Homo sapiens: one gene and its partners. The protein of the gene in region 1 interacts with the protein of each later gene in a pairwise test. Each region holds a gene or a part of one and is shown on either strand. Other genes may lie near its edges. The genes, in order: HEMK1, CTAG1A, POU2AF1 and SHOX.

Region 1 (7,978 bases):
TTCCTGCTTGAGTCCCCAAGTCAGTCCCTGCAGGCTTCCCTTGGAACCCTTGGTTTTTATCTGTTTCCCACTCCCTGTAAGAACCACAGGGCAGGACCTTGTCTTCCCAGCCTCTATTGGGTTCCAAAGGCCTGGTCCAGGGCAGGTACTCAGTAAATAATTGCCAAGTGAATAAATGAATGTTCACTGCCAACAGCCTCCCATGCACAGATCATCTTACCCAGACTCTGCAGCCCACGGTCCACATCAACCACCTTTAAGCCTTTTCTTCTATTGCAACCCCACATCCACTGCCCTAACTGTCCTGCTGGCTGCTCACAGAACCCTCTGTCTGCCTCCAAACTTTTGCCCATCAGGACTCTCCACTTGGAACTCCTTGACTACTATGTGGCCTTCATGACCCAGCTCAAGACACCATGTATTCCCAAGAACCTTTTCTGTTGTTTCCAGTTGGAAGCGTAGCCTCTCTGGTCTCTGGGCCCCAGTGGACAAATCTCTGCAGGAGAGGAGGACTGCACTCTCATTAATAGATTGTTGGCGGGCACAGAGGCTCATGTCTGTAATCCCAGCACTTTGGGAGGCCAACGGGGGCAGATCACTTGAGGCCAGGAGTTCAAGACCAGCCTGGCTAACATAGCGAAACCCCATCTCTACTAAAAATACAAAAATTAGCCGGGCGTGGCAGCTCACACCTGTAATCCCAGCTACTTGGGAGGCTGAGGCAGGAGACTCGATTAAGCCCCAGAGGTGGAGGTTGCAGTGAGCTGAGATCAAGCCATTGCACTCCAGCCTGCATGACAGAGCAAGACTCTGTCTCAAAAACAACAATAACAACAACCAGATTGTCTTCTGATTGATTAGGTTCTCTATAAATCTAAACACTGATTATCCTCCCCCAGCCTACCCCAGCTCTCACCAAGGCCACAGCCAGGCCTATCACCGTGATGATCCCAAAGGACAGAAGCATGGTACCCACGCCGGCCGTGCCACCAGCTGCATCAGGGATTCTGGTGTCATTAAAGGTGGTGGCCTCTGGGCTGAGGGTAGTGGTCTCGGAGGCTGGCCCATCTGTGGCAGGTTCCAGGTCAGACTCAGAGGTGGGTGGGCGGCTGCTGAACCAGCCCCTAGCAGATGCGGTCCTGGAGTTCATGCTGATGCGGAGAGGGCCCTGGCTGAGAGGCTGCCTGATGCCAGTCAACCTGCCCACTCACTCCTGACTCCGGAGTGCCCCAGCCTGTGGTTCCTGCCACCTGTGGTGGCCACCTGCACAGCCACCTCCTTGGATAAAGGGAGCCCCCTGCCTTCCTGGGTGCTAGAAAGGAAAGAATAAGAAACATGAGGCTAAGGACAGGGGCTCAGTAGTGAGATGAAGTCTCTCTAGGTTCTGAAAGCACTGGGGAGGTAAAGGTTTGAGGGCAAGAATGAGGGTAAGTTCAGGAGACATTAGGACACATACTTTACGTATCTACGGTGCCCCTGTTTTTGGGAACAAAAATGAAGCCCTGCATCCTCTGTCTGTGGGTGAGATGATCATAGTGATCAAACCTGGAAGATATGAAAGGCAGCGGGGATGTTTGAAAGAAAAAGTCTCCCTCCCCTGATCAAAAACTCCCCTCAACCTGCGTCCCCATATCCCCCACCTCCCCATATCCACCTCCTCATTCCCTGCCTCCCACATCCCTCATCCTGCTTGGGGGAAAAAATACCACAGCTTTTTCCTTTCCTGGAGGGAAACACTTGCCCAAGAGTCAGACAGGCCTGTCTTTGAAACCTAGCTCAGCTGCTTAACTAGTGATCCCTAGAAAGTCACTCCACCTCTCTGTGTCTCCGTTTTCCTGAGTCTAAGGTGGGGATATTGAGAACATCCCCACAGGGTCATGGGGTTACAGAAATGGCAGAACAAACAGGTGTCGAAGAAAGACTTAGCTCAGCACAACCCCCATCCACAGTAAGCATCCACTACATGTTAGATTTTCTCCCCATGGCCAACCCAGTCACAAAGGGGAGCCAAGGGAGCCCCTGGACCCAGTCCACTGTATGGTCCAGACTATGCTTGGAGTGTGGGTGGAGGCTGATGTGGAAAGACCAGAAGACAAGAAGGAGAGAGAGGCTCTGGTTCTCTGGCGGGGCTTCTCCGCAGGCTCTCGGGGACATTGGACTGCCCTCCCCACCCACCAACAATAGAGGGGCTGCTAGGGTCAAGGAGAAAGGCGAGGCAGGAATGGAGCTCCCAGTGTGGGTGCCTTCTCTTCCTTTACCCTCCTCCCCTGGAAGCAGAGGGTGAGAGATTTGCCCAGTGCAGAGGGCCCTGGTTAAGGTGGGGTGGGAAGAGGTGCCAGCCAAGCTGCAGATGGGACGGCCTAGGGAGAGGAGGGATACCTAGCTCGTGGGTGCATACATCCCCCTGTGCTGGTTCATGGGCATTAGTGGGGTTGCCTCCCTGTGCAGATGCATGGGCGTGTGTGAGATGTGTAAACACCTCTGATGGTCCCTGAGGAAGGGGCAAGGCTGGCAGAGGGTTATGGGGTAGAAAGGCTCATCCCTCTTTGCCTTCTCCCTCCAGCTAGGCTGGGCACATCTGGGCACATAGGAAGTCCCGGGTTCTTTTCTTGGCTTTGCAACTGATCCCGGGCGTGACCTTGGGCCAAACCCTTAACTCGTGCCCTGGGGCTCTGTTAACATCGCCTCCCAAAGGAGAGAAGAGGCCCTACTGACCACTTTCCAGGCCTGCCTCAGGGTCCAAAGGGGAAGGGAAGGAAACCGGGGTAAAAGGGGTCGGCACCGCGACCTTCGAGAACCCGCATGCTGTTCTCCACCAGGTCTCTCAGTCCTCCCTGCCCCAATCCCCATGCCCGCCTCCGCGACCCTGTGATGCCTCCCTTCTTGCACAGGAGCAGTGACCTCAGCACTTACTTAATCCTCTCCCGGCGCCGAGCTCAGTTGGAGAGGCTAGGGGTGGTAGTGACTGGCAGGAGGCCGGGGCGGGGGGAACCCCCAAGCCCGGCGTCTGGGGCTGCGGGTCCGACCCGAGATCCGCCCTCCCTGCAAGCCCCGAGCCGCTGGCCAGGCCCGCTACTGCGCACCAGCCGCATCCGCGAGCGCTGGCTCTGCCGGCCTGAGCTAGGGTGGGTAGGGCCGGGACCCACGGCGGAGGTGGGGCCGGGCCGAGCAGCCTCGGGGGATCCCCGAAGCTACAGCGCCTTGCCTCCCTGCACGCTCCGCGCCCCCGGCCTCCGATTGGCTGTCGGGCCTAGAGCCCGCCCAGAATTGGACCGTTCGCTTGTCGCTCGGGTCTGGCTCCACCCCCAGAGGGAGCCTAGAACCTGGTCGCAGTTTTTAGAGACTACCCTCACCCCGTGGCCTGCGCCGAAGTTGGGCGGAGGACAGTGGGTGGCCAGGCCCTTCCGGGCCAGAACTCGGGACCCCTGCCAGCTACCCGTGCCAGGACAGACTCAAGCCCCCAAAACGCGGATGGATGTACAGAGGAGACTTGGGGAGAGCACTGGACTGGGAGTCCTTGGGCCTGCACTGAACTCTGGCTGACTTTGTGACCTTGAAGAAACTGCTTTTCCCTTCCTGAACCTTGGCTTTCTACTCAGACGGGTCCTCTGGTGTGAGGGTTCTAGACGAAGATGGGGAATCTTCGTCTACAGAAGTTGAGAGTGGGGTGGATTTATTATTGGGCACCCCGACCCAGGCAAGTCTACATATACCCTCACAATAGCTTCCATCCACGGCATGATCAGCTCAGGGAAGGAGCCCTCAGATACTCCTGATCCGCCGGTTTTCAAAGTAGTTTATGGGAGTCACCGGGTAGCCTGGTACAAATGCAAACGCCCCTGTGTCTCCCGGTCTGGGAAGGAGGCAGGGAAACAGCATGTTTAATAGCAGTTTAAGGCCGGGCGTGGTGGCTCACTCCTGTAATCCCAGCACTTTGAGAGGCCGAGGCGATGGATCACCTGAAGTCAGGAGTTCGAGACCAGCCTGACCAACATGGTGAAACCCTGTCTCTATTAAAAATACAGAATTAGCCGGTCGTGTTGGCTCACGCCTGTAATCCCAGCTACTTGGGAGGCTGAGGCAGGAGAATGGCTTGAACCCGGAGGCCGAGGTTGCAGTGAGCAGAGATCGCGCCATTGTACTTCAGCCTGCGCAACAAGAGCAAAACTCCGTCTCAAAAAAAAAAAAAAAAAAAAAGAAAAAAAGAAAAAAAAAGTAGTTAACAGTGTTCTAGTTAACAGTACTTTCTGGTGGGGAGATGTTGACAAGACACACTTTGCGAGACGCTGCCGAGTATTTTATAGAAGGCGCAACTGAGGTCCAGAGGTCCCAACACCTGGAGGAGTTGCCAATAGAGTCAAGATTCGAATCGGTAAAAGAGCGGCCCCTGGGGTCTGGCCGCCAGTCGGCCGACCCCCTGGTGGGCTCGGGCCACTGACCTCGGTAGGGTCACGACACTGGGACTGGACCCCAAAGTTGGACCAGCCTTCAACACTGGAACCCGCCCATGCACAGCTCCACCCGGCCCCCAGGCTAAGATAGACCACGCCCCCGGACATCTGGTCCCCGCCGGAACACCCGGGCCCTCTGGTGACACGCCCCCTTTCCGGCAGGCTACTGGGCTCCGCCCACACACCTCCCGGCCTGGTTCCTAAACGCCAGCTCGGAGCAATCCCCTTGGGCTGGAGCCAAATCCCTGCTGTGATTTTAAGGAAGACCGGCAGGTCCGGGCCCCCAAGGGTCAACCCCACACACATCCCCGCACTTTCCTGTATGCAGGCCTGCGAGCGTAGAGGGAGTGGAATTCACAGCCTCCCCACCCATCCGCAGGGGTCTCCTGGGAGGAACCCACCAGCGATAGGAACACTGAAGCTGGGCTACGGCGTCCGCCCGAGCCTTTTCTTAAAGGCGCCGACCCCGGAAGCGGGGCGTCCGAGGGAGCGCGCGACGGGCCACGCACGTCCGGGCGTCCAGTTCGGGGCAGCTTCTCCGGCTGGTGGGTGGGTGGGGCAGCCTTTCAGGCAGGTATGCATGGGAGGTGGGGATCGGAACGGGGTGTTTCGACTGCAACCGCCTGGAGACCTGGCCGGTACCATTCTCCATAGTGCAGATGGGGAAACAGGGTTGGAGAGAGGGGGCCTCATCTGGGTCGTTAACAATGCGGTGCGTAGCTGTGAGGGAGTTTACACTTCTGACTTCGGGCCTTGGCTCCTGGGACGGCGCACTGGTGCAAGAGCCGCTTCTGGAGTCTGGTGGACTCGGGTTCGTGTCTTGCCTGGGACAGTCTTTTTTTTCTTTTTTTTGAGACGGAGTCTCTCTCTGGCACCCAGGCTGGAGTGCAGTGGCATGACCGCGGCTCGCTGCAACTTCCGCCTGCTTGAACTGGGTTCAAGCAGTTCTCCTGCCTCAGCCTCCCAAGTAGCTGGGACTACAGGTGCGCGTCAGTATGCCCGGCCAATTTTTTGTATTTTTAGTAGAGACAGGGTTTCACCATGCTGGCCAGGCTGGTCTCGAACTCCTGACCTCGTGATCCGCCCACCTCGGCCTCCCAGAGTGCTGGGATTACAGGCGTGAGCCACCGTGCCCAGCTTGCCTGGGACAGTTTCTACCTGAGTGACGCTGGGCAAGTCGCTTCCCTTCTCTGACCCTACTTGTATCTGAAGATGTGGCACTTAGCAGGTGCTTAATAAACGCTAGTTTGGACTTTTATCTGGAAGCAAAGGGGACCGCTGATTTTAAACCTTCAGTTAAACTTGCTTGTGACCTCTTTAAATATACAATTGTAAATTTTTTAGTTGGTGGTTTACGCTGATGTCCCGGATTATAGGTTAAATTAGGAGGAAATTTTCAGCATGTACATCCATGACAGTACACACACAATGTCAGATTCAAAGCTCCCAATTAAAGGCAATCATCTGCCTCTTGTAACATCAGTTAAGATCATGTAACATCTGGTCCCTGCTGTGTGTTGAGCTGCCTCCCAGGCCTTGGATATTCATAGACTAATGCATTGCTTGCCATGGGTTTGGTGTGATTTTCCCCCATCTTATGGATTAAGAAAGTGAAAATCAGAAATAATGACTTGCTCAAGATCACACACGCTAGGTTAGACACAGATCTGTCCTGTCCCCACATATGTGCCCTAACCTACCACCAACCCGTTTATTAGCAGAGACTGAGCTATGGGCTCAGCCCACTCCAGCTAAAAATGTGAAGAAAACGTAAGTGGCCAAGACAAGAATGATCAAATAGGTGGGTAAGGCTCTAAATGGAGTCAAGGGGGTGTCAGAGCAAGAGCACAACTATTCTCAGGCAATGTATTGGTAGAAGGGGGGGTGTCATACAAGGCTCACCTGCTTTCCTGGTTCCTCTCACTCCCAGGGTGGCAACCAACTATATCTGAGGACCAGAGCCATTTTGGGGCACCAGAGCTTGTGACCTCTCCATCTCCACCCAGCTGGGTCCAGGGGCCACTCTCAGCACTCACCTCAGCAGCTGACATCATAAAGCAGACTTGGGAACCTGGAAGCACTCTGGAGAACCTTTCCCTGAGACATGGAGCTTTGGGGCCGAATGCTGTGGGCCCTCCTGTCTGGCCCAGGGAGGAGGGGAAGTACCCGGGGCTGGGCCTTCAGCTCATGGCAACCCCAACCACCTCTGGCTGGGTTATCCAGTGCCATAGAACTGGTCAGCCACTGGACTGGGGTCTTTGAGAAGAGGGGTATCCCTGAGGCCCGGGAATCCAGTGAGTACATCGTGGCTCATGTCCTTGGAGCCAAAACAGTTAAGTTTAGTGTTGTCAAGAGGACAGGAAGAGGGAGGAGGGAGGACTTGGGGAAGGGATATCCAGGTTTTCTGTTCACTAAGAGTGCTTAGCTGAGACTGATGGGATTTTTCTGAAGGAACGTCTTAGCGCCTGGCACACACTGTAACAGTTTGTTGGATGAATGAATATATCTCTGCCTAAGTGTTCTGGGATAGACACCTGGAAGCCTGGTGTTAGCTGTGTAACCTTAGGCAGGATGCTGCCCCCTCTGGGCCCAGATGATGAGAGGGTTGGGCCTCCAGACCAGTGCTGGGCAGGCATTATCCACATAAGACACCTGGGTTGGGGGCCTTGGGCCCAGTGAGCCAGCCACTTATATTCTCTGTGGGGACAGTTTCAGAGCCTGAGGCCGGCACTTTGGACCCAGCCCTTGACCTCTCAGCAACTACAGTGTATCCGGGAGCTGAGTAGCCGTCGATTGCAGAGGTGAGCACCCATGGATCAGACCTGAAGGATGTGTTCAGGGAGCAGCAGTCCAGCCTCCCCTATCCCCACCAAGTTCAGGGAGGAGGAGAATGTCCAAGGACTAGGGAGGTGTTGGGGTGCAGGAGTGGCAAGAGTGGGGCCGGGGTACTGAATAGGAAGAAGGGAGGGAGGGAGGGTTTTGCCTCAGGAGTCCCAAGGCCCTGGAGACATGGTCTTGCCTGATACCTTTGGCCACAAGTGGTATCTCAACCCAGGCATGGTCCTGTTGGTCCTAGCTCTGTCCCTGATGACCACCCAGCTGCCCCCTCTGCAGGATGCCGGTGCAGTACATCCTTGGAGAGTGGGACTTCCAGGGGCTCAGCCTAAGGATGGTGCCCCCAGTGTTTATTCCTCGGCCAGAAACAGAGGTAGGTGTGCCACCAGGGCAAGGCAGGATCAGGATGATGGTGGAGTTCAGGGCACCAGTCTTACCCCAGGCTTCCTCCAGGGGGCACTGGGGCCCCATGACTTCAGGGACAGTGCCTTTCTAGACATGTATTTCCTCTCTGACTGTGTTGGCAGAGCCCAGAGGACAGAGGATTCCTGTTGGTCCCCTTGACTGTTATGTTCCAAGCTATCAACCCAGCCTCTAGGTCTGGCAATGGCCCAGAGTGCCTCAAATAGTGCTGCCCAAGTACTTAGCCTGTTCTGCCATTTCTCTGGGAGCCATCCCATGGCTCACCCAAC
Region 2 (7,075 bases), on another chromosome or scaffold:
GCCTAGATTCAGAGGATGTATGGAAACGCCTGAATGTCCAGGCAGAAGTCTGCTGCAGGGGCGGAGCCCTCCTGGGGAACCTCTACTAGCGTAGTGCAGAAGGGAAATCTGGGGTTGGAGTCCCCACTGGGGCACTGCCTAGTGGAGCTGTGAGAAGGGGGCCACCATCCTCAAGACCCCCGAATCATAGATCCACTGACAACTCGCATTATACTCCTGGAAAAGCTGCAGACATTCAATACCAGCCCAGGAAAGCAGCCGAGGGGGCTGTACCCTGCAGAGCCACAGGAGCGGAGCTGCCCAAGGCCTCAGGAGCCCACCCCTTGCCTCAGTGTGGCCTGGATGTAAGACATGGAGCCAAAGGAGATTATTTTGGAGCTTTAAGAATTAATGACGATTTTCTGCTCCGCCCGCCCACAGATGTAGTTTCCTCCGCACGTGCGCACCTTCCCTCCTCCCCGCCTGCAGGGTCCATGGCCTCCATGGCGTTTTAGGGGCAGCAGTGCCTGTGGCAGCCTTGGCCTTTGCAGCGGTGGCAGCAGCACCAGGCTCTGCAGTGGCATCCACCGGCGGCTTAAGCCGTAGCACTTCTCACAGCATTCAGCAGCAGCATTGCTGTAACCGACAAAGACACCTTCGAATTAAGCACATTCGTTGATTCCAGCAAAGCACTGCACCATGACCGAGATGAGCTTCCTGAGCAGCGAGGTGTTGGTGGGGGCTTGATGTCCCCCCTTGACCAGTCAGGTTTGGGGACTGAAGAAAGCCTAGGTCTCTTAGATGACTACCTGGAGGTGGCCAAGCACTTCAAACCTCATGGGTTCTCCAGCGACAAGGCTAAGGCAGACTCCTCCGAGTGGCTGGCTGTGGATGGGTTGGTCAGTGCCTCCAACGATGGCAAGGAGGATGCTTTCTTTGGGACAGATTGGATGTTGGAGAAAACTGATCTGAAGGAGTTCGACTTTGATGCCCTGTTGGGTATAGATGACCTGGAAACCATGCCAGACGAGCTTCTGGCCACGTTGGATGACTCGTGTGATCTCTTTGCCCCCCTAGTCCAGGAGACTATTAAGGAGCCCCCCCAGTCCAGGAGACTATTAAGGAGCCCCCCCCAGATGGTGAACCCGATTTGCCATCTCCCAGAAAGTTTAACCCGACCAGGTTGCCCCCTTCACCTTCTTGCAACCTCTTCCCCTTTCCCCAGGGGTCCAGTCCTCCACTCCAGATTATTCCTTTAGTCTAGAGCTGGGCAGTGAAGTGGATATCTTTGAAGGAGCTAGGAAGCCAGACTCCACTGCTTACATTTCCAAGATCCCTCACTGCACAAAGGAGGAAGACGCCCCCTCAGATAATGATAGTGGCATCTGTATGAGCCCAGAGTCCTATCTGGGCTCTCCCTCTACCTCCAGGGGCTCTCCGAGTAGGAGCCCGCCATCTCCAGGTGTCCTCTGTGGCTCTGCCTGCCCCAAACCTTATGACCCTCCTGGAGAGAAGATGGTAGCAGCACAAGTAAAGGGTGAGAAACTGGATAAGAAGCTGAAAAAAAAATGGAGCAAAACCAAACAGCAGGAACTAGGTATCGCCAGAAGAAGAGGGTGGAGCAGGAGGTCCTCACTGGTGAGTGCAAAGCGGTGGAAAAGAAGAACGAGGCTCTGCAAGAGAGGGCGGATTCCCTGGCCGAGGAGATCCAGTACATGAAAGATTCGATAGAAGAGGTCTGCAAGGCAAGGGGGAAGAAAAGGGTCCTCTAGTTGAGGGTAGTCAGGAGCGTCAATGTGCTTGTACATAGGAGTCTCGCGCTGTAGCTGTGTGTTCGAATAAATTATTTTGTAGTGGAAAAAAAAAAAAAAAGAATTAATGACTGTCCTGTTGGGTTTTGGACTTGCATGGGGCCTGTAGCCCCTTTGTTTTGGCCGATGTCCCCCTTTTGGAAAGGGAGTATTTACCCAATGCCTGTACCTCAATTTTATCTTGGAAGTAGCTAACTTGTTTTAGATTTTACAGGCTCATAGGCAGAAGGGACTTGCCTTGTCTCAGTTGAGACTTTGGACTGTGGATTTTTGAGTTAATGCTGAAATGGGTTAAGACTTGGGGGACTGTTGAGAGGAGATTATTGTATTTTGCAATGTGAGAAGTACATGAGATTTGGGAGGGGGCAGGGGTGGAATGATATGATTTGGATTTGTGTCCCCACCCAAATCTCATGTTGAATTGTAATCCCTAGTGTTGGAGGAGGGGACTGGTGGGAGGCGATTGGATCATGGGGGTCGATTTCCCCCTTGCTATTCTCGTGATGTTGAGCTCTCACAAGATCTGGTTGTTTAAAAGTGTATAGCACCTCCCCCTTCACTTTCTCTTTCTCCTTCTCTGGCCATATAAGATGTGCCTCCTTCCTCTTTGCCTTCCGCTATGATTGTAACTTTCCTGAGGCCTCCCCAGCCATGCTTCCTGTAGAGCCTGCAGAACTGTGAGTCAATTAAACCTCTTTTCTTTATAAATTACTCAGTCTTAGGTAGTCCTTTATAGCAATGCGAGAACGGATTAGTACCGTCAATATTGATGAGAATGTTGAGCTATGTGTATGTACGCTGACACATTATGGTGGAAGCGAAAATTGGCTCAAACCACTTGGGAAAACATGGCATTATCTAGTAAATTTCGAGATATGTATTGGCTGTGATACAGCAATTCCAAAAAAAAACTTGGACATGTGCTTCAAGAGACCTGTACAAGCATGTTCATAGCCAAGGGCTGGAAACTATCCAAATGCCTGCCCATCATCAGCAGAATGGATAAATTAGAGGACTATAAAACTCTGCCGTAATGTAATAGGTAGTTTCCAAGAAATCCAATCGCATACAATGTGAAAATGTGTTACTGTGGGGTTAATGAAATGAATGAGGCAAGCCCGCTGGACCATCCAAATCTGTCCTGCTCCCGGCTGGAGTTTGATGCCATCTAGTGGCAGACGTTGCTCTGGCTGAAATATTGATGGAGATTTCCGGTCCAGTGGCTGGCTGAGACTTCCAGGACAGTGGCAGTATCTCCAGGAATCTCTCAGTCAGTTAGGACTTCCTTTCTTGACTTGATCTGAGGATAATAGGCCGGGAAAATAATGGGGACCCGGAGACCCTCCCTCTGTCTTCCTGCTTCCTAAGACAGGGTCACATGCACTTTACTCTCCCTTCCCTGACCTGTTGAAGGTAAGAACTTTAGCCTGCCTCTGTCTGAGAATGGGGAGACTGAGCAGAGGACGACAGGAAGGATGGCAATCACTAACCGGGTTATGTCTGATTTTCAGCTATTCCAGGTGTTAACAAGTTGTGTTCTCTGGTTTTTAAAATTCATCATTTAATGAAATATATGTAATGAAATACAGCAGTGAAAATAATAAACTGGAGGTACACGCAAGAGCTTGGGTGAATTTTTCTTTTCTGTAAGTAAAAACATTTTTAACTGATGTATGATAACTCTGCATATTTATGGGATACATGTGATATTCTGATACATGCACACGCACACACGATGTAATGATCAAGTCGGGGTATTTAGGATCTCCACCACCTCAAGCATTTATCATTTCTTTTTTTGGGGAACATTTCCTATCTTTTAGCTATTTTGAAATATACAATAAATAATTACCTATAGTCCCTCTACGGTGCTATCAAACACTAGAACTTAATCCTTCTATGCAACTATATGTTTGTCCCCATTAACCTCCCCACCCTCCCCACCTTTCCCAGCGTCTGGTAACCATCATTCTGCTCTACCTCCAAAAGATCAACGTTTTTAGTTTCCACATGAGTGCCAATATGCTTTTCCCAGGTGCAGAGGCTGCTGATTCCTGGATTTGGAAGGTGGGGGAGAGTGGTTTGGATTTCAGTACCTCCCCCTTCCTCAGGGCTAGGCCCTGTCTGGTCACCTCCTGTTGCTACAGGTGTGCCTGGCACAGACATTCAGCTCCCGGGGCCGTGCCGCCCTCACCCCTGCATGCCTCTAGAGGTACCTGTCCCGTGGATTTGACCCCCTTCCAGACACACAAATAGATCACCACTGAGCAGACACAGGGTCACCTCCCAGCTCCCTACCAGGCAAGAGCGACCAGGGCAGGGACTGATACTGCCGAACCCAGGAGCCAGGCCCGACCCAGCCTCAGGTCCAGCAGGTCCCGCCTGTCCACCTGGGCCAGGCCTAGAGCCCGGGAGCCCCTGGCTGGTGGGAGGCCACCCGCAACCCACCCCACACGCAGCTCCAGCTCCCCCACCAGGCGGGGCGACTAGGACAGGGACAGAACCCGTTGAACCCAGGAGTGAGATCCGGCCCCGGGTCCCGCTGGGCCCTCCCGTCCACCTTGGCTGGACCTGGCGCCTGGGAGACCTTGGCTGGCGCGAGGCCACGCCCACCAGACATGCAGTTCCAGCTACCCCACCAGCTGGGCGACCAGGACAGGGACGGAGGCTGCTGAGCCCAGTTAGAGGCCTGCCCCCCGGGGTCTGTCCTGGGCGCTCCCCCAAGGACGGACAGGGCAGGCAGGGTCCGGGACGATGGCCGCACAGTCCCGGCCCCGTGTTCCCAGGCCCGTCTTGCTCCTCGATGTGAGGGAGACCCGGGGGATGGGACAGGCTGGGCCCCGCAGTGCCTGACTCCCTGCAGGGCTCCCGGGACAGGGGTCCGGCGGACAGCCGGCTGCTCAGGGGTGAGGGGTCCAAGCTGGCATTGCGGCCACCTTCCGGCCCGGGCTCTCTTGGGGAGGGGCGGGGTTGGTGAGAACCGGTCACGTGCTCCGGGGCTCACTCGGGGTCTCCCAGGGCCGGAAGTAGGGCCCCTGTGCGCAGGCGCCCTGAGGATCCCGGGCTGCCCATCTCACGCCAGGGGGCGGAACTTCCTGCAGCCTCTCTGCCTCCGCATCCTCGTGGGCCCTGACCTTCTCTCTGAGAGCCGGGCAGAGGCTCCGGAGCCATGCAGGCCGAAGGCCGGGGCACAGGGGGTTCGACGGGCGATGCTGATGGCCCAGGAGGCCCTGGCATTCCTGATGGCCCAGGGGGCAATGCTGGCGGCCCAGGAGAGGCGGGTGCCACGGGCGGCAGAGGTCCCCGGGGCGCAGGGGCAGCAAGGGCCTCGGGGCCGGGAGGAGGCGCCCCGCGGGGTCCGCATGGCGGCGCGGCTTCAGGGCTGAATGGATGCTGCAGATGCGGGGCCAGGGGGCCGGAGAGCCGCCTGCTTGAGTTGTATTCTGTTCTGTTCTGTTCTGTTCTGTTCTGACAGTTCTGGTGGCGAGGTGGGGGCCGGGAGATGGGGAGGGCAGGGCCAGGTGGGGGAGGAGGCGGGGGAGATGCGAGTAAGTGGTTGGGTGGGGGTGGGGGTGGGGGTTGGGAGGTGGGGATATGAGAGGCCAGCTGCGAGGAGGGGAGGAGGTAAGGGCTGGGAGGTAGAGGGGGTGGGGGTGGGGGAGAGGGGCTGGGTGATTGGGTGAGGGGCACCGGGTCATGCGGGGAGGGGAGCAGGGGCCAGGAGATAGGGGGACCCAGGTGTAGGAGGGGATCAGGAGGTGGGGGGAAGGGGGCAAGATGGGAGCGGGTGGCGGGAGGTGGTTGGGATGGAGGGTCGAGTGATGAGGAGGGGGCCGGGTGATGCCACAGGGGGCAGGGTGGGGAGGGGTCTTGTAAGGGCATGGAGGAGTCAGCTTGGGGTGCAGCAAAGGAAAGTGGGGAACCAAGACAGCTGGGTGGGGTGTGCTACTGGGCCAGTGCCTGGGGAGACAGCCTGGGGGGGATGGGCTGGGCAATCCGGGGTAGGGGGGAGGGGTGGGGGAGTGGGGGAGGGGGAAGCTGGCCTGGGGTAAGCAGCAGGCCGGAGCCACAGGCCAAGTCCTAGGAGAGGATGCCTTAACTGGGCCCCCACCAGCTACCTCGCCATGCCTTTCGCGACACCCATGGAAGCAGAGCTGGCCCGCAGGAGCCTGGCCCAGGATGCCCCACCGCTTCCCGTGCCAGGGGTGCTTCTGAAGGAGTTCACTGTGTCCGGCAACATACTGACTATGTCAGTTCAGGACCAGGACAGGGATGGGGCCTGGGTGGGTGGCGGTCACAGCGTGGCAGGGTGGGGGCTGGGATCCGCCTACACCCCACGGTCAGGCTGCTAGAAACCTGGGAACACCCCAGCACAGGGTCTCAGAACAGAGACCTGGTACACCAGGCCCGCCGCCACCCGAGGGAGCCCAGGGAGATGGGTGCAGAGGTGTCGCCTTTAACGTGATGTTCTCTGCCCCTCACATTTAGCCGACTGACTGCTGCAGACCACCGCCAACTGCAGCTCTCCATCAGCTCCTGTCTCCAGCAGCTTTCCCTGTTGATGTGGATCACGCAGTGCTTTCTGCCCGTGTTTTTGGCTCAGCCTCCCTCAGGGCAGAGGCGCTAAGCCCAGCCTGGCGCCCCTTCCTAGGTCATGCCTCCTCCCCTAGGGAATGGTCCCAGCACGAGTGGCCAGTTCATTGTGGGGGCCTGATTGTTTGTCGCTGGAGGAGGACGGCTTACATGTTTGTTTCTGTAGAAAATAAAACTGAGCTACGATTCCGTGTCTGAGTCTCTTTTCGGCGAGCGAAGGCACCTTCGGACTTGCATGCCCTTGTCCTCGGGTTGCAGGGGAGGCTCTGGGATTCACAGATTGAAGTAGCACAAGGTAACGGGAGGCAATTTGGGAAATGGGGGAAAATGAAAAGCCACTGGGTCCCGCCATTCAGCATTAACTACTGTGGACATTTTAGAATATTTTCCTCAATATACTTGCATTTATATGTTAAATATATGACAGTAGCATATATAATGTTTTTCCAGGTCAGCATTAAATTTTTTCCCAAATTGTTTTCATTGAACATATGAGCTTTTTTACTTGGGAAAAATTCTTTGAAAACGTACTTGAATAGATGCATAGAACCAGCATTATCATATCACTGTTAAGCATGTGATATGGGTTGGGCATGGTGGCCCACACCTGTATTTCCAGCACTGTGGGAGGCTTGAAGCGGGAGGATGGCTTGAGACCTGCAGTTGGAGGCCACCCTGGGCAATGTAGCGAG
Region 3 (7,770 bases), on another chromosome or scaffold:
GCATCACTAACCAACTAGAAAATTATATAAAAAACAAGATGCCATTCACAATATCAACAGAAACTATAACATAATTGAGAATTAGCTTATTTAAGAATATACTGTACTTCTGCGGAGAAAATTTAAAAACTGTAATAATAAAAAACATGGAATATGATCTGAAGAGATGGAGAGCTGTCCCATGCTCAGCTGGACCAAATTAATTTTATAATGATATTACTCTTGCTTGAAGTAATCTACAAATTCAATGAAAACCAATAAAAATTTCAGTGTTTTTTTTGGGGGGGGTGCTGGGGAGTCTCTCTCTGTCACCCAGGCTGGAGTGCAGTGGTGCGATCTCGGCTCACTGCAACCTCCATCTCCTGAGTTCAAGCTATTCTCCCACCTCAGCCTTCTATGTAGCTGGGATTACAGGTGCCCACCATCATGCCCAGCTGATTTTTGTATTTTTAGTGGAGACAGGGTTTCGCCATGTTGGCCAGGCTGGTCTCAAACTCCTGACCTCAGGTGATCCATCTGCCTCGGCCTCCCAAAGTGCTAGAATTACAGGCATGAGCCACCATGCTGGCTGGAATTTTTTGAGGAACTTGATAGACTTATCTGAAAAATTTAAGCTGTACTATAATAAATAACAATAAAAACTAAGGTACAAGAACAACGAGACCAGTAAAATAAAATAGGTCCATGTACCTAAAGTATGTATTTCTATTCAAAAAAAGCACACTATGAATAAAGTTAGCAGATGACAAGAGTGAAGAAATTTGTGTTGAGTAAAACTGAAAATATCTAGAATTGTACATCTAGAACACAGATGTGCAAAGAATTTCTGCTGATCAACAAGAAAAAGGGCAATCCTGGTACAGAAATTGGCAAAGGAATGAACAGACATTTTAAACTGGCAAGAACAAATACTACACTTGATCTTAGCCAAAAGGCCAAGAGGTGATTGAAGAGGTATTTTGAAGAGAAACTCCATAGGGTTAACATGCATATGAAGACATGCTTCCATTTATTAGTATTATAATGTAAAATAAACCACTACACTATCACTACACTATTACACTAAAACACACACACACACACACACACACACACTACACTGTTGCTATCACTACATGTACCACACTGGCAACATTTAGACCTTGGATAATGTCAGGTTTGGTGGTAAAGTGGAAATATGAGAAGCTGGTGGAAAAATGAACTGCTGGTGGAAGTCTTGGACAGATTAGTATTCAGTCAGATTAAATATACACCTATTCTTTGGCCCAGTAATTCCACCTCTGGGCATATAACCTCAATGAAATTTTCACATGCCTCTGAAAAAAGATGCATATAAGAATGTTCATCAATGCTTTGTTTGTGGAAGAGGAAGTTGGAGACAATCTGCTTAAGTGAAATGCAGCGCTCACACACCATAGAATACTTTGCAGGTGTTAAAAGTGGTGCACAGAATGTCTACATCAATGTGGATAGATCTTACAACACTGTGCTGAATTAAAAAATAAGAAACAGCGTGAAATGTGTAATATAACATCACCTACATAAATTAAAAATCTATACATGCCAAACAATACAGATCTTATAAGAACAGGCACAAATGTCTACAAATAAAAGCTTCAGCATCAACCACTGAAAAGAGTTGCCCTGATTGGAATGGTGGGTGGGTGATGGGGGTATGAGGGGACAGGAAAAAGAATAGACATGGAAAATGAGGGGGAAAGTAGATGAATGAATAAATAAATTACTGAGCAAAATAAGATAGGGGCTTTTCATAAATCAAAAATGATGAGAATGAAGATGATTAAAGGCTAAATGAAAAGAAAAGATTAAGACTTGGCAGAGGTAATGACATGTAATAAGCACTCTGTAAATATTTATTAAATGATGGAAGAAATGAAGTCGATGGTGAATCTTTTTGCAAAGCTAAAATTTATTTCACAATATGAATCAGTGCGCTTTAATAAATTATTTTAGAAGTTTTGATGTTTGTATATCAGATTCTTTAAAAATGTGAGCACACCTGTATTTGGAGTCATCTGGACCATGTTCACAGATTTTTTCTTCTTTTCTTCCACTTCTTGAGACATTGCATAAACATAGTCGCCTCTTTTGAACTATGCCATGCAGTTTGACTTTTGATTCTAAGTCACAGAAAATGTTTTCCTGGAAAATATTTGCTGTTTCGATCAAGTCTTGATTCCAAAGCATCTGCCTGTATGTGGTCACTGATATGCAGGGTATTTGCTGGAAGAAATGAGCTGGAATCTGCCTCATGAGCTGTGAGGCCATAAGAGGTGATGGGTTTATCGCTGGCCATGATGGTGGGCTTGCCCACTGACATTTTGTTTTTCTGCCACTGTACAAGATCTGATTTGTCAGAGTAGCTCTGGGTCTCACCTTTTCCTTCCCTCTTTCCAGAGGACAGAAATTTATTCCGGGGGATATAGCTTCTGTTGATCTGCTTCAGGTTTTAATAATAATGATCCTATATTACTACTAACAAACATGGCTGACACTTGGCATTTACTGCTTTCAACTTAATAAATATCTTTTATTTTAATGATTTAGAGCTCTGGCTCTAGTCAGATGAACTTGGGTCTGGCACCAGCCTATAACCTGATAGCTTGGTGACATTGGACAGATGAAATTCCCTAAGCATTTGTTTGTTTCTCTGAACAATACAGGTAGACGTTTCCTTGCAGCGTTGTTGTGGTGACTAGATTAGGTAATGTATTTAAGGCTTAACATGGAGCCTCTTGCACAGTAAGTGGTTATATTATTACTTTGTGGAAATCATCATGCTAGGCCTGTGGGGAGAAACTGAGATGAATAAGAAAAAGTTCTGAATTTCACGGACTTGGAGAGAATAAGACATGACCAAAAGAGACAAAAGACAGACCCGTGGGAGAGAGGACCAGCGAGGCCACATATCCTCCTACGAACCTGTGAGACACTCACAGAACTGGTTCTTCATTTTATAGATGAGGAAACTGAGGCTAGAAGAGTTATGTGACTTGTTGAAGGGGACACAGTGAGTGAGTGTCAGAGCCTTCATGGGAACCCACGTCTCCTGTGACTGAGGCAGGCCTGAGGGATGTGCCTCTGTTTCTCATGGAAACTCCTTGGCGCAGCCCAAGGCCTTGAGATGCTGCCCCCTGCCAGGCCAGGGTGTGGGCTGCCAGCCACCACAGCATGGGGGCCTCCACTGTCCTGAACTTCAGAGGCTTTGCGGGGAGGGCTTATAGGCAGCCAGGAGACAGCCTTCTCTGGCTTTTAAGTGAATCATTTATAAAATGTTGACAGCATTTCTCCTCAAGACCTGCCCTCAAATCAGCAACCGATTAGAGACAGTAATTCATAACTTTATCAGATGAATTTTTATTGGGGGTCACTATGCTCCAGGTCTTGTGTGGGGCACTGGAGAGGCAAAGATGAAACCTCCTTGAGAAACTGTCAGAGTCATGTGACAATTCACCATCACATAATGAACAAAGTGCTCTAAGATCTGAGAAGACGAACAAGTATTCTCTGGGCTGGGGGTTTGTCCTTCCGGCAAGAGAGGACGGCAAGGTCAAAGGCAGGGAATTGCATGGGTGTTTGGTGGTGCTTAGAGGGCACTGGGACCAGTGGTAGGAGGGCAGTTGGTGGTGAGGCTGGAAAGGAAGGCAACGGCTCGATTGTGGGAGGCCTTCTAGGCCTCCAGCTCTGTGGCTGAAGGGAGAAGGTGAATGCTTTGTAGGCTAGGGGATAGCATGATCAGGTCTAGGTGGTGCAAGATGGCTCTGAGGCAGTATGGATGGCAGAGCAGCAAGGCCCCACACCTGCTCTAGGGGGTGTGCCAAGGGGTCTTGACCCCAAACTGACTGAGTCCCTGGAGCCTGAGCATGTGGACCTCAGATATGCAGTGGCAGAAGGCTTCCAAACTGTGAAGGAACCGGTAGCCAACACCATCTACACTTCCAGATGGTGAGCCCATGACTTACTTAAAGAAGCTTCCTGTTATCAGTGGGTGGGCACTCGCAAAGAGGCTCTGTTCATCTTGTGCCTACAAGCCCAGATCCAGTCAAAGAGCACGGGCATGTTCTCCTTCCTTCCTTGAGGGTTGGCCTCTTTTTCCGTGGGCATAGCCGACATCAGAGCCAGCGCCCCCATATTTCAGCATGATTAAGCCTTGCCATTTTGGGGGTGGCTGGGGGCGAGGGGAGGGGCTACTGTGTTTCAAAATGGAATAAACAGAAAAGCAATATTGAAAGAATGAGGAGGTTGTTTACTGAGGCTTGAAGAGATGACAGGTGTTTCCTCCCAGTTGAGAACCAGTGACCCCTGGGAATCGCATTTCCCGCTGAGCAGGCGCCCATGGCGGGCTGAGTCCTGCCCATGCCCTGGTGGCCTGGAAGCCTGCATGGGCGCCGTGCAAAGATCAACGTTTTCCAGAGGAGCTTTTGGGCTCATCACTGGCCTGGGGAGGGCTTGACACGGGGTTCCCACAGCTTGCCCCACACCACCTTCACACCCACACACAGCAGGTCCCCGCGGGGCCGGTGCAGGCTGTGGCTGCCCGCGCTGCGCTGTTGCTCTGTCCCAGCTGGCTAGCTCCGAGTGTGGAGCGCTCTGGGCCGGGGCCGCTGGGGCGCGCACAGTGGGGTGACAGGCGGCCTGGCTGCAGAAACGTTGCACCGGTGCCTGAGGTGGGAGGATGTGATGACGCGGCCCACGCAGCGGGAACCCAGGCCTTTAAAAAGCCCAGGAAACAGCCTCAGCTCAAGCGGTGGCTCCACTGGAGGAAAACACACCCCGGTCTCACATTAAAGAAGCCAAACTGTCGGCTTCAAAGAGAAAAGGCAACATCCTGTCACAGGCCATGCTCTGGCAAAAACGTAAGTGGTTTGGCTGTGGCTGTCAGACCCAAGCGAGTGCCAGCGGGGCAGGGCGATCACAGCTTGGTCTGGAATTGGGGAGCTGGTGGTGGAGGTGATGGGGCCACGGGGGGAGGGGGTCTGGGTTCCAAGCCCCGGAGCAGGGAGGGGGGAGGTGGGCGGGATGGAGCCTGGTGGAGAAACCAGCCTGTCAGAGGTGATGCTGATTTTCCAGGCTGGAGGGGAACGAACTAGTGTTCCAAGGTGGGACGGCTCAGGGTACCTCCGCTTCTGTGCATGAATCACTGTGGTGAAGAAAGGGCAGTTTATGATTCACACAACAAAAGCCAGATGTGGGATGGGTTTGGGGTTGGGAGGGAAAAGCCATGCAGTTCTTTACAGGAGGGGCTTTATTTCCATAAGCAGTGGCTCTTCAGCCTTCTGTTGAATTCCCTGGGCCTGTTTCTAGCTGAGTGACTTAGCTTTCTGCCAGGTGTGACTTGTCCCTGTGGATACCCTGGGAGGAGTGGAGATCTGGCTCGGTGAAGCGTGTCCTCACTTGCTCCACTGTCTTGCCTTTCGTCATTCTTTTTCCCCTTCTGTGACAAGGCTTGTCCATCCCACTGCAAAGGATGCAGTGGGTTTATCTTTGGCCTTGATTTTTATCCCCGGAGTTGGATGAAACAATTGTGAACTTTATTTTCCTTTATGTGGACCAAACAGCGACTTACCTTACTAATAACTGAAATAATACAGATTATTTACAACATTCTTTTCACGAGGTAAACAGCGTCAACTCATCAGCTTCTGAGAGTTGAACCTTATTGGGGCTAGTTCTATACTTCCTCAAGCAAGAAGAATGACCAAAAATTGCTCTGTCTTTCTCTTAAAGATTCTTGGTTCCTTAAAATTCGTTTTAATTAATTTTAGTATGCTGTGCCTCAAGCAAGCTTAATATAAGAGAATCTAGATTTACAGAAGAAGATATATTAGGGAATGTTTTTATTTTATGGAAAGATACTTGATTGGATCCACTAAAGTTCGGAAAATATAACTTCATTGATTAAAATGTGACACTGTCATCACCAATTTATTGTTTGCTTTATGTCTTATGTAAATTTCTCTGGAATTAAGCTGATTAACCAGTAACACAGAAGAGTGATTTCAAAATTTCTCAGGTTGTGAAGACCCACCATTGTTTGATATCAAAAGGTCAATTTTTTAAAAAAATAAAGAGAAATGAGCTTTAATTTGGGTTTGAGAGTTATGGACTCCTTCCAAGATAACTAGGAATATTCAAGAATTGTTGGCACGCCACTCTTCCCAACAGGCGATGGAGCAGCGGCAGCCTATCCTTTCTGGGACAATGGCAGCTGACCCTGTTGTGAGTGCTGTGTGGATGAGAGCAGGTGGGCATTCATCTTTTTACTGGGGGCCCCTAAGCATCTGTGTGCCCTTTCACTCAGGGCTGAATCATTTGATTTTTGTGTGAGCCCCTGGAAGGAGTTTTGCCTCAGCTCCTACCTTCTATGAGCAAGCCACTTTCCTTTTTCTCAATCCTTAGGTTTTTTGTATGTTAAGTGGGGGTAAAAATCATATCCACACTGAGGATCTATCCTTAGTAAGTGAGGTGCCACCGAAGTCATGTTCATTGCTCTGTCTGCATCAGCCTCTGAGATATGAGTTGCTTCCCTGCATTCACCATCTGCCATATTCTCCCCTCTTGGTTCTGTAGTACATTTTTTCATTTCTAATTCCTTCTAAGAGATGAACAGACTTTTTTTGTTTGTTTGTTTGTTTTTTGAGACAGAGTGTTGCTCTGTTGCCCAGGCTGGAGTGCAGTGGCGCGATCTCGGCTCACTGCAACCTCTGCCTCCTGGGTTCAAGTGATTCTCTCGCCTCACCCTCCCTAGTAGCTGGGACTACAGGTGCCCGCCACCACACCCAGCTGTTTTTTTTTTTTTTGTATTTTTAGTAGAGATGGTGTTTTACTATGTTGTTCAGCCTGGTCTCGAACTCCTGGACTCAAGTGATCCACCCGCTTTGACCTCCCAAACAGGTGTGAGTCACTGCACCTGTCCCCCAAATTTTTTAAAGGGGATGCTGGAGGGCATGCTTCCTGCTCACACCCTGGAGACCAGTCAGATAGATCAAAACTCCATTGTAAGGGAGACCACATTGTAAGCTCATCAATGGAATAACTGGGGTGAATGTTTCCACATGTTCAGATGAACACAAATCAAAATTATCTTGAATTGTCCTTTAAGCCTTAAAGGAAAAGTAGGAGAGACCCTGGGCTCTGGACCCACCCCCTTAGCCTGAACCCAAGTATGTGGTATAGAGGGCACCTGGGTGACTAAACCGTGTGGGAAAATCAGTAAAAACAGGGCAGCATGTCAGCCCACTTAGAGTCACCCGATGGAAGGGCAGGGTTTGAAATCAGACACCAAGAGTGCTGAAAGGGCACTTTCTTTTTTCAGAAAACACCCTCGAGGCATGAGCTGAAATGACTGTACTATGGGGTTCTGGAAAGGGTTAAGAAAACATTCACTTTGTGAATGTTACCTCCTCCCTACCTAGCCCATGACCCTAGTTTGTGGACTAAATGTGAACCCTGGCTTTTGGTTAAGATTAGAGCATAAAGTGACAAAGCCCAGAACTGCTGGCACAGAGAAGTAGAAATCTTCAAGCCCCAACCAATGGATTTGAGATTTGCTTGATGGGCCAATTGGATGAAGAAGTCACTCCATCTGTAGATTCTCTCCCTGGGTTCTGGACTTGGACCTGCTGGTCAGGTGCACATGTGAAGAATTACCATCCCTCCCCAGCTAGTAACAGTGTAGTGGAAATAGCAGGAACCTTGGAGGGAGACAGGTCTGAAAGTTGCCTGTGCAACTTAGTTCTTTCTTTGTGA
Region 4 (7,273 bases), on another chromosome or scaffold:
GTCTCTCTCTGTGTCTCTACCTCTGTCTCTCTCTCTCCTCTTTTTCTCTGTCTCTGTCTGTATCTCTGTCTGTCTCTGTCTCTCTTTCTCTCCTCTCTCTGTATCTCTGTCTCTGTCTCTCTTTCTCTCCTCTCTCTCTTTTTCTCTGTCTCTGTATCTCTGTCTATCTCTGTCTCTCTTTCTCTCTCTCATCTCTCTCTGTCTCTTTTTCTCTGTCTCTCTCTGTGTCTCTACCTCTGTCTCTCTTTCTCTCCTCTCTTTTTCTCTGTCTCTGTATCTCTATCTCTGTCTCTCTTTCTCTCTCTCCTCTCTCTCTTTTTCTGTCTCTGTCTCTCTGTCTGTCTCTGTCTCTCTTTGTCTCTCTCCTCTCTGTCTCTTTTTCTCTGTCTCTCTCTGTGTCTCTACCTGTGTCTCTCTTTCCTCTCTCTTTTTCTCTCTCTGTCTGTATCTCTGTCTACCTCTGTCTCTCTCTCTCTCCTCTCTCTCTGTCTCTTTTTCTCTGTCTTTCTGTCTCTCTATCTCTGTGACTCTTTCCCTCTCTCCTCTCTCTCTCTTTTTCTCTCTCTCCCTGTCTCAGGGAAGCATCAGTAAAACCTCCAACAAGCACCCCCTTGTACACAGCCCAGGCCAAGAGAGGTGCAGACCCTGCTTTCTGCCTGCAGCCGCCTGCTGTAAAATGTCAATGCAAAACATTTCATACAGTCCACCCACTCTGCAGACTGGAGCTGCGGCCTCTCGGACAGCGTCTTGAATTGGCAACGAAAAACGTGTGGGGTAGAAAAAGCTCTCGTCTGGATTTCTAACATGTTATCAAGCACTCAAACGCTGGGTGTTTCCTGCCTGTCTTTAAAGGGAAGGGCAGGGAGAGAACGTAAAAGCTCTGGTCAGAGAAGGGAAAGGTCTTTAGGTGAGAGGGGTGAGGCCGCCTCCGTGCTCATCCCACAGGAAGAGTTGGAGTTTTACAGAAAGATGAGATCTCTTTCGCGTAGCCAGAAACTCTTAGGAAAAGCGGGGTGTTGGAAAGGCAGAAAGTGTGCCATGAATCGGACGTGCGTGATTTCAAAGCCACTTGTCTGCAGTGAGAATTACAATTGGGGCTTCAGTTGAAAAAGGGCCTTTGCTTTTTCTCCGAGGCCGAGGGGCCTTGAATAGCCACACAGCTCCTGACTGGTGTCCCCATGCTCATTCCTGGAGGCTCGGACACCCTGGTAGAGCGGAGTTTCCTACTAGACAAAGGGGTCCAGATTGCGGCCCAAGAAGGAACCTCAGGTCGGGGAAAGCCTGGGCCTCACGGGACCCCCCAGGAAAGCCTGGTCCTTGGGGTTGGAGAAGACAGCTGAGCTGGGAGGACGGAGGGTTTTCGGTAGGGAGACAGTGAGCAGCTGTGAGAGGTTTACGGCGCAGTCCCTGGGGACCCAGTTTCCCAGCAGAGGCAGAGATGGGGAGGCCTTTAGAAGCAGAAAAGTTACCCGGCCTCTGAGGACCCAGAAAGTTGCTCTAAGCCAGAGACCCTTCTCCGAATCTCCCTCTCTGTCTGTCTCTGCCTCTCTCCCTCTTTCTCTTCCCCCTCCCTGTCTCCCTCTCTGTGTCTCTGCCTCTCTTTGTCTCTCTCTGTATCTCTATCTGTGTCTCTCTTTTTCTCTCTCCATCTCTCTGTCTCTCCGTTTCTCTCTTTCTCTCTCCCTCTCTCTCCCTGTCCGTGTCGCTCTTTCTCTCTCTCCATCTCCCAGTCTCTCCCTTTCTCTCTCTCCATCTCTCCCTGTCTCTCTCTTTCTCTGTCTCCATCTCTTTCTCTGTCTCTCCTTGTCTCTCTCTTTCTCTCTCTCCATCTCTCTCTGTCTCTCCCTGTCTGTTTCTCTCTCTCCATCTGTCTGTCTCTCCCTTTCTCTCTCTCTGTCTCTCCCTCTCTCTCCCTGTCTGTGTCTCTCTTTCTCTCTCTCCATCTCTCTCTGTCTCTCCCTGTGTTTCTCTCTCTCCATCTCTCTCTGTCTCTCCCTGTCTGTTTCTCTCTCTCCATCTGTCTGTCTCTCTCTTTCTCTCTCTATCTCTCCCTCTCTCTCCCTGTCTGTGTCTCTCTTTCTCTCTCTCCATCTCTCTCTGTCTCTCCCTGTGTTTCTCTCTCTCCATCTCTCTCTGTCTCTCCCTGTCTGTTTCTCTCTCTCCATCTGTCTGTGTCTCTCTTTCTCTCTCTCCATCTCTCTCTGTCTCTCCCTGTCTGTTTCTCTCTCTCTATCTGTCTGTCTCTCTCTTTTTCTCTCTCTATCTCTCCCTCTCTCTCCCTGTCTGTGTCTCTCTTTCTCTCTCTCCATCTCTCTCTGTCTCTCCCTGTGTTTCTCTCTCTCCATCTCTCTCTGTCTCTCCCTGTGTGTTTCTCTATCTCCATCTCTCTGTCTCTCCCTTTCTCTCTCTCTGTCTCTCCCTCTCTCTCCCTGTCTGTGTCTCTCTTTCTCTCTCTCCATCTCTCTCTGTCTCTCCCTGTGTGTTTCTCTCTCTCCATCTCTCTGTCTCTCCCTTTCTCTCTCTCTGTCTCTCCCTCTCTCTCCCTGTCTGTGTCTCTCTTTCTCTCTCTCCATCTCTCTCTGTCTCTCCCTGTGTTTCTCTCTCTCCATCTCTCTCTGTCTCTCCCTGTCTGTTTCTCTCTCTCCATCTGTCTGTGTCTCTCTTTCTCTCTCTCTATCTCTCCCTCTCTCTCCCTGTCTGTGTCTCTCTTTCTCTCTCTCCATCTCTCTCTGTCTCTCCCTGTGTTTCTCTCTCTCCATCTCTCTCCGTCTCTCCCTGTCTGTCTCTTTCTCTGTCTCCATCTCTCTCTGTCTCTCCTTGACTCTCTTTCTCTCTGTCTCCATGTCTCTGTCTCTCCCTGTCTGTGTCTCTCTTTCTCTCTCTCCATCTCTCTCCGTCTTTCCCCCTCTGTCTCTTTCTCTGTCTCCATCCCTCTGTCTCTCCCTTTCTCTCTGTCTTTCCTTGTCTCTCTCTTTCTCTCTCTCTCTCCATCTCTCTCTCTCCCTGTCTCTCTCTCTCCATCTCCCCGTCTCTCCGTTTCTCTCTCTGCCTCTCCCTGTCTGTCTCTCTCTTTCTGTGTCTTACACACACCCCAACCCACCGTCACTCATGTCCCCCCACTGCTGTGCCATCTCACACAAGTTCACAGCTCAGCTGTCATCCTGGGTCCCCAGGCCCCGCCGGGGAGGAAGATGCGCCGTGGGGTTACGGGAGGAAGGGGACTCCGGGCCTCCTGGTGCCCCACTTTATTTGCAGAAGGTCCTTGGCAGGAACCGTGACGCGTTTGGTTTCCAGGACTTGGAAAACGAATTTCAGGTCGCGATGGCGAGCACCGGCTTCCCCTGAAGCACATTCAATAGCGAGAGGCGGGAGGGAGCGAGCAGGAGCATCCCACCATGAAAACCAAAAACACAAGTATTTTTTTCACCCGGTAAATACCCCAGACGCCAGGGTGACAGCGCGGCGCTAAGGGAGGAGGCCTCGCGCCGGGGTCCGCCGGGATCTGGCGCGGGCGGAAAGAATATAGATCTTTACGAACCGGATCTCCCGGGGACCTGGGCTTCTTTCTGCGGGCGCTGGAGACCCGGGAGGCGGCCCCGGGGATCCTCGGCCTCCGCCGCCGCCGCCTCCCAAGCGCCCGCGTCCCGGTTTGGGGACACCCGGCCCCTTCTTCTCACTTTCGGGGATTCTCCAGCCGCGTTCCATCTCACCAACTCTCCATCCAAGGGCGCGCCGCCACCAACTTGGAGCTCATCTTCTCCCAAGATCGTGCGTCCCCGGGGCGCCCGGATCCCCCCCTCGCCATCTCAACCCCGGCGCGACCCGGGCGCTTCCTGGAAAGATCCAGGCGCCGGGCTCTGCGCTCCTCCCGGGAGCGAGGGCGGCCGGACGACTGGGACCCTCCTCTCTCCAGCCGTGAACTCCTTGTCTCTCTGTCTCTCTCTGCAGGAAAACTGGAGTTTGCTTTTCCTCCGGCCACGGAGAGAACGCGGGTAACCTGTGTGGGGGGCTCGGGCGCCTGCGCCCCCCTCCTGCGCGCGCGCTCTCCCTTCCAAAAATGGGATCTTTCCCCCTTCGCACCAAGGTGTACGGACGCCAAACAGTGATGAAATGAGAAGAAAGCCAATTGCCGGCCTGGGGGGTGGGGGAGACACAGCGTCTCTGCGTGCGTCCGCCGCGGAGCCCGGAGACCAGTAATTGCACCAGACAGGCAGCGCATGGGGGGCTGGGCGAGGTCGCCGCGTATAAATAGTGAGATTTCCAATGGAAAGGCGTAAATAACAGCGCTGGTGATCCACCCGCGCGCACGGGCCGTCCTCTCCGCGCGGGGAGACGCGCGCATCCACCAGCCCCGGCTGCTCGCCAGCCCCGGCCCCAGCCATGGAAGAGCTCACGGCTTTTGTATCCAAGTCTTTTGACCAGAAAAGCAAGGACGGTAACGGCGGAGGCGGAGGCGGCGGAGGTAAGAAGGATTCCATTACGTACCGGGAAGTTTTGGAGAGCGGACTGGCGCGCTCCCGGGAGCTGGGGACGTCGGATTCCAGCCTCCAGGACATCACGGAGGGCGGCGGCCACTGCCCGGTGCATTTGTTCAAGGACCACGTAGACAATGACAAGGAGAAACTGAAAGAATTCGGCACCGCGAGAGTGGCAGAAGGTAAGTTCCTTTGCGCTCCGGCTCCAGGGGGGCCCTCCTGGGGTTCGGCGCCTCCTCGCCACGGAGTCGGCCCCGCGCGCCCCTCGCTGTGCACATTTGCAGCTCCCGTCTCGCCAGGGTAAGGCCCGGGCCGTCAGGCTTTGCCTAAGAAAGGAAGGAAGGCAGGAGTGGACCCGACCGGAGACGCGGGTGGTGGGTAGCGGGGTGCGGGGGGACCCAGGGAGGGTCGCAGCGGGGGCCGCGCGCGTGGGCACCGACACGGGAAGGTCCCGGGCTGGGGTGGATCCGGGTGGCTGTGCCTGAAGCCGTAGGGCCTGAGATGTCTTTTTCATTTTCTTTTTCTTTCCTTTCCTTTTTTTGTTTGTTTGTTTGTTTGAGACAGAGTCTCGCTCTGTCCCCCAGGCTGGAGTGCAGTGGTGCGATCTCGGCTCACTGCAACCTCTGCCTCCTGGGTTCAAGCGATTCTCCTGCCTCAGCCTCCCCAGTAGCTGGGATTACAGGCATGCACCACCACGCCTGGCTAATTTTTGTGCTTTTAGTAAAGACGGGGATTCACCATGTTGGCCAGGCTGGTCTCGAACTCCTGACCTCAGGTGATCCACCCGCCTCGGCCTCCCAAAGTGCTGGGATGACAGGCGTGAGGCACCGCGCCCGGCCTGGGTCCTGACGGCTTAGGATGTGTGTTTCTGTCTCTGCCTGTCTGCCTTGTATTTACGGTCACCCAGACGCACAGAGGAGCCGTCTCCACGCGCCTTCCCAGCGCTCAGCGCCTGCCGGGCCCCCGGAGATCACGGGAAGACTCGAGGCTGCGTGGTAGGAGACGGGAAGGCCCCGGGTCAGCTCGGTTCTGTTTCCTTTAAGGAACCCTTCATTATTATTTCATTGTTTTCCTTTGAACGTCGAGGCTTGATCTTGGCGAAAGCTGTTGGGTCCATAAAAACCACTCCCGTGAGCGGAGGTGGCCGGGATCTGGATGGGGCGCGAGGGGCCCCGGGGAAGCTGGCGGCTTCGCGGGCGCGTCCTAAGTCAAGGTTGTCAGAGCGCAGCCGGTTGTGCGCGGCCCGGGGGAGCTCCCCTCTGGCCCTTCCTCCTGAGACCTCAGTGGTGGGTCGTCCCGTGGTGGAAATCGGGGAGTAAGAGGCTCAGAGAGAGGGGCTGGCCCCGGGGATCTCTGTGCACACACGACAACTGGGCGGCATACATCTTAAGAATAAAATGGGCTGGCTGTGTCGGGGCACAGCTGGAGACGGCTATGGACGCCTGTTATGTTTTCATTACAAAGACGCAGAGAATCTAGCCTCGGCTTTTGCTGATTCGCAGAGTTGAGGTGCGAGGGTGAATGCCCCAAAGGTAATTCTTCCTAAGACTCTGGGGCTACCTGCTCTCCGGGGCCCTGCATTTGGGGTGTGGAGTGGCCCCGGGAAATAGCCCTTGTATTCGTAGGAGGCACCAGGCAGCTTCCCAAGGCCCTGACTTTGTCGAAGCAGAAAGCTGTGGCTACGGTTTACAAAGCAGTCCCCGGTTTCTGACCGTCTAAGAGGCAGGAGCCCAGCCTGCCTTTGACAGTGAGAGGAGTTCCTCCCTACACACTGCTGCGGGCACCCGGCACTGTAATTCATACACAGAGAGTTGGCCTTCCTGGACGCAAGGCTGGGAGCCGCTTGAGGGCCTGCGTGTAATTTAAGAGGGTTCGCAGCGCCCGGCGGCCGCTTCTGTGGGGTTGCTTTTTGGTTGTCCTTCGCAGACACCGTTTTGCTCCTCTGAACTCTCTCTTCTCCCCCTGGCCGTGGACCCGGGAGAGCAAAGTGTCCTCCAGACCTTTCGAAAGTGAGAGGAAAATAAAGACCAGGCCAAAGACCCAGGGCCACAGGAGAGGAGACAGAGAGTCCCCGTTACATTTTCCCCTTGGCTGGGTGCAGAAAGACCCCCGGGCCAGGACTGCCACCCAGGCTACTATTTATTCATCAGATCCAAGTTAAATCGAGGTTGGAGGGCAGGGGAGAGTCTGAGGTTACCGTGGAAGCCTGGAGTTTTTGGGAACAGCGTGTCCCCGCCGAGCCTGGGAGCCCGTGGGTTCTGCAAAGCCTGCGGGTGTTTGAGGACTTTGAAGACCAGTTTGTCAGTTGGGCTCAATTCCTGGGGTTCAGACTTAGAGAAATGAAGGAGGGAGAGCTGGGGTCGTCTCCAGGAAACGATTCACTTGGGGGGAAGGAATGGAGTGTTCTTGCAGGCACGTGTCTGATAGGAGGTGAAACAGAATGTGAAATCCACGTTGGAGTAAGCGTCCAGCGCTGAATGTAGCTCGGGGTGGGGTGGGAGGGCCCTGGTGTGGATCGTGGAAGGAAGAAAGACAGAACAGGGTGCTAGTATTTACCCCGTTCCCTGTAGACACCCTGGATTTGTCAGCTTTGCAAGCTTCTTGGTTGCAGCGGCCTTGCCTGTGCCCCTTTGAGACTGTTTCCAGACTAAACTTCCAAATGTCAGCCCCTTACCCTTGACAGCAAGGGACATCTCATTAGGGCATCGCGTGCTTCTCATCTGTGCTCAGCAGGCCCGAGATAGGAACAGAGGGGCGTTGGAGATGCCACTTCCACCAGCCCTGGGTTGAAGGGGAGC

What was found.
Region 2: the proteins of HEMK1 (region 1) and CTAG1A interact in binary tests that used the Homo sapiens proteins (3 or more experiments, as listed by UniProt).
Region 3: the proteins of HEMK1 (region 1) and POU2AF1 interact in binary tests that used the Homo sapiens proteins (3 or more experiments, as listed by UniProt).
Region 4: the proteins of HEMK1 (region 1) and SHOX interact in binary tests that used the Homo sapiens proteins (3 or more experiments, as listed by UniProt).

What each region holds. Positions count from the first base shown.
Region 1 is NC_000003.12:50,564,550-50,572,527, forward strand, and holds the start of HEMK1 (MTRF1L release factor glutamine methyltransferase), read left to right. Parts: upstream 1-4,972; 5' UTR 4,973-5,025; exon of another isoform or gene 5,026-6,252; intron 6,253-6,353; exon of another isoform or gene 6,354-6,381; 5' UTR 6,382-6,555; coding exon 6,556-6,783; intron 6,784-7,160; coding exon 7,161-7,252; intron 7,253-7,527; exon of another isoform or gene 7,528-7,565; coding exon 7,566-7,659; intron 7,660-7,978. UniProt on the Homo sapiens protein: N5-glutamine methyltransferase responsible for the methylation of the glutamine residue in the universally conserved GGQ motif of the mitochondrial translation release factors MTRF1, MTRF1L, MRPL58/ICT1 and MTRFR.
Region 2 is NC_000023.11:154,580,248-154,587,322, forward strand, and holds CTAG1A (cancer/testis antigen 1), read left to right. Parts: upstream 1-4,885; 5' UTR 4,886-4,959; coding exon 4,960-5,228; intron 5,229-5,904; coding exon 5,905-6,039; intron 6,040-6,278; coding exon 6,279-6,417; 3' UTR 6,418-6,569; downstream 6,570-7,075.
Region 3 is NC_000011.10:111,376,269-111,384,038, reverse strand, and holds the start of POU2AF1 (POU domain class 2-associating factor 1), read left to right. Parts: upstream 1-4,763; 5' UTR 4,764-4,861; coding exon 4,862-4,877; intron 4,878-6,186; exon of another isoform or gene 6,187-6,189; coding exon of another isoform or gene 6,190-6,265; intron 6,266-7,770. UniProt on the Homo sapiens protein: Transcriptional coactivator that specifically associates with either POU2F1/OCT1 or POU2F2/OCT2. It boosts the POU2F1/OCT1 mediated promoter activity and to a lesser extent, that of POU2F2/OCT2. It recognizes the POU domains of POU2F1/OCT1 and POU2F2/OCT2.
Region 4 is NC_000023.11:626,518-633,790, forward strand, and holds the start of SHOX (short stature homeobox protein), read left to right. Parts: upstream 1-4,273; 5' UTR 4,274-4,380; coding exon 4,381-4,657; intron 4,658-7,273. UniProt on the Homo sapiens protein: Controls fundamental aspects of growth and development.